2 separate regions of the Homo sapiens genome follow, and region 2 is linked to region 1. The links come from fine-mapping of genetic effects on gene expression. Tissue or cell type: monocytes. Region 1 holds a variant in brackets; the other region holds the start of a gene. All regions are shown on one strand. Distances are from middle to middle.

The links. PIP is the estimated chance that this variant, and not a neighbour inherited with it, causes the effect.
Region 2: it holds the start of CATSPERG, and the variant in region 1 is fine-mapped to the expression of CATSPERG in monocytes (TOPMed, PIP 0.99).

What each region holds. Positions count from the first base shown.
Region 1 is chr19:38,355,508-38,358,187 of GRCh38, forward strand. CATSPERG (catsper channel auxiliary subunit gamma) reads left to right here. Exons shown (of 29, transcript NM_021185.5): 10 at 977-1,036; 11 at 1,235-1,354. Among named protein-coding and RNA genes, the nearest start is that of PSMD8, 18 kb to the right of the region's middle. The variant T/C (reference allele first, on the strand shown) is at 1,284.
Region 2 is chr19:38,334,511-38,337,190 of GRCh38, forward strand. It overlaps CATSPERG (catsper channel auxiliary subunit gamma), which reads left to right and starts at 1,320. Exons shown (of 29, transcript NM_021185.5): 1 at 1,320-1,365. RefSeq lists enhancers at 1,059-1,353, 1,158-1,367 and silencers at 1,488-1,567, 1,938-2,107.

The DNA.
Region 1 (2,680 bases):
CCAACATGGCGAAACCCCATCTCTACTAAAAGTACAAAAATCAGCTGAGCATGGTGGCATGCACCTGTAGTCCCAGCTACTTGGGAGGCTGAGGCATGAGAATTGCTCGAACCTGGGAAGCGGAGGTTGCAGTAAGCCAAGATCATGCCACTGCACTCCAGCCTGGGCAACAGAGTGAGACTGTCTTAATAATAATGATAGTAATAATAATAATAACTTAAGCACAAAGAATTTGTGGACTTACATAAATGAAAAGACTACGGTTCAACTTCAGGTATGGCTGGATCCAGGGGCCCACAGGGTAGGTCATCAGGACTCCATCTCTTGGTAAGGTAGTGCAGCATAGTAATTAATTATAGCACAGATTCTGGAGAGAGACTGCTCCATCACACCTTCGCTGTGTGCCTCTCGATATGTAACTTGACCTCTCTGATCTCGTTTTCTTCACCTACAAAATGTGGCTAATGGTAGTACTAGCATCTAGGTCACCGGGTTGATATAAAGATTAAATAAGTTGGTTTTTGTAAAGGTCTTAGTGCTAGTGATGTGGTGAGTGTTACAAACAGTTTATTATTATTGGTCCTATAATTTGGGTCCATTTTTAGGTAGCTATTCCTCCATGGAGGTTAAAGGTGGCCCCTTAAAGCTTCAGACTCAAGTCACCTACTAGTCTGAGTCACGCCAAGAGAATGAAGACAGCATCTTTCCCATTAATTCTAACACAAATCCCAGAGTAAACTCTGATCGGCCCACCGTGGGTCACATGGCCAGACCTGAGGCATGAGACCCACAGTCTCATGACTGTGACCAAAGACAGACATGCTCTGATAGGCCAGGTGTGAGTGACGAAAGGCCAGAGAATGAGATCCCAAGGACGGAGGGGCTGGTGGGCATAAGGAGGGCAATCGGAGTTGGCTTGATGGGCTGCCAGACAGGAGGGAGAGGGCCTGAACATGAACCCGACCTTGCTCTGCAGATGGCCAGGTGTCCTTTGAGATGCTGCCCAGGCAGTGGTCTGTGTGCGAGCAGATAGGAGGTACTCATTACCCCGATGGGTCTGCGGTGGGAGGCTGGGGGAACTGAGGATGCAGAAGAGCAGGGGAGGGTGGCAGGGGTCATGGGAAAGAATGGGCAGTGTCTTAGGGAGGGGTGAGTTATGGGGAGGGGTACAGCTGGCACAGGACCAAGGCTATTGAGCCCTGGGGCGGCTCTGGACTGCCCCTTTCCCTCTCAGTTACCACCTGCTCCATAATTTGGTCTGAATACATCGCGGGTGAGTATAC[T/C]CTACTGCTGCTGGTGGAGAGTGGATATGGTAATGCAAGTAAACGTTTCCAGGTGGTCAGCTACAACACAGGTAATGAGGGTGATGCAAGGGGCTGGGCACAAAGGGGCAGGATCCCAGACTGTGGACTGCATGCCCATCCTGAGGGATCTGTGCCCAGCAGACAGAGGGAGGGCAACATTACCTGTGTCACTCCTGGTTGAGGAGTAGCAGTGGAGAACAGGATATAGGCTTGGTGATCTGAAAGGGCCCTGTGGCTCACAATAAAGAGATTTTATTTTACCTGCAGTGAGAATAGGGCCCCTATGTAGATTTGTGCAGGCTGTGCAGTGCACAAAACCCCCAACCGAGGGGTCAGAGGAGACAGGTCCTGTGCCTTAACAGGACTGTTTCCTCTCAGGCAGTGCCTTTTTATAATTCACATGAAGAAATTCTAAAGGGCTAGGCAAGGGGCTCACACCTGTAATCCCAGCACTTTGGGAGGCCAAGGCCAGAGGATCCCTTGAGGCCAGGAGTTCAAGACCAGCCTGGGGCAACATGGCAAGAGGCTGTCTCTACAAATTAAAAAAAAAAAAAAAAAAAAAGTAGCTGAGTATGGAGTCGCACCTGTAGTCCCAGCTACTTGGAATATACCTGAGGTGGGAGGATAGCATAAGCCCAGGAGGTTGAGGCTACAGTGAGCTATGATCATGCTACTACCTGGGTGACAGAGCAAGACCCGGTCTCAAAAAAAAAAAAAGAGCAGAGCCAGGCGTGGTGGCTCGTGCTTATAATCCTGGCACTTTGGGACACCAAGGTGGGTGGAATGCTTGAGCTCAGGCGTTCAAGACCAGCCTAGGCAATATAGCGAAACCTCATCTCTACTAAAAATACAAAAATTGGCCGGGCACGGCGGCTCACGCCTGTAATCCCAGCACTCTGGGAGGCCGAGGCGGGGGGATCACCTAAGGTCAGGAGTTCAAGACCAGCCTGACTAACATGGTGAAACCCTGTCTCTACTAAAAATACAAAAATTAGTCGGGCATGATGGTGGGTACCTATAAACCCAGCAACTCAGGAGGCTGAGGTGGAAGAATCACTTGAACCTGGGAGGCAGAGGTTGCAGTGAGCTGAGATCATGCCATTGCACTGCAGCCTGGGCAACAGAGCGAGACTCCATCTCGAAAAAAAAAAAAATTAGCTGGGCATGGTGGTGGTGTGCGCCTATAATCCCAGCTACTCCATAGGCTGAGGTGGGAGGATCACTTGAACCGAGGAGGCAGAAGTTGCAGTGAGCTGAGATCACACCACTGCACTCCAGCCTGGGCGACAGGGAGATCCTGTCTCAGGGGGGAAATAAAAGAAAAGAAACTCTAAGGACTAGCAAACCCGAGTGGGAAGCTCTTTGGAGGGTTTTAC
Region 2 (2,680 bases), 21 kb before region 1:
CCAGGCTGGCCTCAAGCGATCCTCCTACCTCAGCCTCCCAAAGTACTGGGATTACAGGTGTGCAGCACCACATCTGGCTTAATTTTTTTTTTTTTTTTTGAGACAGGGTCTCATTCTGTCGCCCAGGCTGGAGTGCAGTGGAGGGATCTCGGCTCACTGCAACCTCCGCCTCCTGGGTTCAAGCAACTCCTGCCTCAGCCTCCCGAGTAGCTGGGATTACAGGTGCCCGCCGCCATGCCCGGCTAATTGTTGTATTTTTTGGTAGAGACAAGGTTTTATCATGTTGGCCAGGCTGGTATCCAACTTCAGACCTCAAGTGATCCGCCTGCCTCAGCTTTCCAAAGTGCTGGGATTATAGGCATGAGCCACTATGCCCAGCCAGAGACTCCATCTTTAAAACAAAAACAAAAACTCAGGGTGTGGTACCCACCAACCTGGCTTACCCAGCCTTTTAGGTGAGTCTAATGCATGCTCAAATTTGAAAACCACTGGGTTAAACGTCTGGTCTGGAGTTCATCAAAAAGTCATGGCCTGAATCCTTACCTGTAAGGCATCAGAATGCAAATGAAAATTAACTTAATGAATATTTTACTTGAGCCGGGCACACTTCCCACAACAGTATAGGATGGCTGTCCTTGTCCTGTTTTGTAGAGGACGGTGCTAAGCAGCCTATTCATTCTCACAAGGTCTCCAGGAAACCACACTTTTTTAAGGAGTAGAATTTTGGGGTAGGGCCGGGCGCAGTGGCTCACGCCTGTAATCCCAGCACTTTGGGAGGCCGAGGCGGGTGGTTCGCCTGAGGTCAGGAGTCGAGACCAGCCTGGCCAACATGATGAAACCCCGTTTCTACTAAAAATACAAAAAATAAATTAGCCAGGCGTGGTGGCGGGAGCCTATAATCCCAGCTACTCGGGAGGCTGAGGCAGGAGAATCGCTTGAATCCGGGGCAGGGGCGCGGAGGTTTCAGTGAGCCGAAATCGCGCCACTTCACACTCCAGCCTGGGAGAAAGAGCGAAACTCCGTCTCAAAAAAATATATATATATATATATTTGGGTAGGAAGCACAAGTAGGGACCGTGCTTGCTGCCAGAACAACCAATAGAAACTCCTTGAAGGCCTTCCTGGCACAAACGTAGTCTCCAGCACCCTCTGCCGACCAGGCCCCGCGCCCTCAGTGCTGAGACAGCCTCCAGCCCTCGGTGCCTTAGGGGTTGCGCGTCACCTTGGAGACCGCGTGAGAGGAGGGCGTGCCTCTGCAAAGGCGGAAGTCGGCTGTGGAAGTGTGGGCGGCCATTTTGAGACCGGGCAAGAGGGGCGGGACTGGTGCGGCCGAGTGACAGTTGACCGGTTTTAACCAAGTGACTGGTACCACGGGGCCGGGGAAAAAGCTGTGCCATCCAGGGGCGGGGGGATGCCGGGGACGGGGAGGAACTAGGAAGGGGAGGGGAAGGGGAAGGCGAGAAGGGGAGAGGCAGGGGAAAGAGGGGAAGAGTCGTGGGAGCTGGGAGAGGAGGGAAAGAGGGGAAGAGTCGTGGGAGCTGGCAGAGGAGGGAAAGGGGGAGCCGAACGTGAAGGGCGAAGGGCGGGGCGGGGCAGGAGAGTCGGGGTATAGAGCAGGCAGGTGTTAATGGCATGGGAAGGAAGAGTAAGAAGTGGGGCAAGAAGGTGTCGCGGTACGAGGGGAAGGTGAGACTCAAGAAGGTGCCGGCTAAGAAGCTGGTGCCGGCGTGGAAGGAGAAGGTGTGGGGCGAGGAAACAACGAAGGGCGAGGAAAGATCCCGAGGCGAAGAGACAGTTTTCATCGAGAAGGGGCAGGGCGAGGAGGAGGGGCGTTACCAGAGGGCGGGACGGGGCGACGGGCCCGCGCGGGAAGAACCAATCGCCGAGAACCCGGGGAAGGAACGGGTCCATAAAGACCAAGTGGAGGAGTAGGGGCGCGGTCAGGAGCGGAAGCAGAGTGAGGAGCAAGCCCCGGGCGAGAAACGGGGGCCCGGCCGGGAGCAAGAGCAGGGGCGGGGCCGGGAGCAAGAGCAGGGGCGGGGCCCGGAGACGGGCGAGACCAGGTACAGTACCCAGCCCCTGGGCAGACCCCGAGCGAGGAGAAAGCGGCGATACCAAGAGAAGTGCGAGGGTGGGGCAAGAGGTTGGGGCACAGCCGGGTGGAAGTACACGGGTGCGATCGCAGGCAGAAGCAGTACGGGGGAACTTAAGAGGGGGACTGTCAAAGCGAGAAATAGAAACCAAGACCAGGTGAAGAGCAAGAGTGGAATACAGGGAGGGGGCGGAATAAGGAGCAAGGTGAGGATAAAGTTAAAGGAAGAGACGTGGAGGCGGCGGGGCGGAACGAGGCGGAGGAGCAGGGGTGTGGCCAGAAACATTAGTAGGGCTGGGGCCCGGAGCAATAGCAGAGGTGCGATACCCACGAGGGTCGGGGGCAGGGCCAGGAGCAAGAGCAGGGGCGGGACCAGGAGCAAGTGCAGAGGCGGAGCCAGGAACAAGAGCAGAGGCGGGGCTAAAAGTCCGTGCGGGGGCAGGGCCAGGAGCAAGAGCAGGGGCGGGACCAAGAGCAAGTGCAGGGGCGGGGCCAGGAGCAAGAGCCGGGGCGTGGCCAGGAGCAAGTGCTGTGAGAGGCGCAGAAGCGAGGTGGAATCTTAAAAGTGGGCTCCAGAGAGCTGTCCGG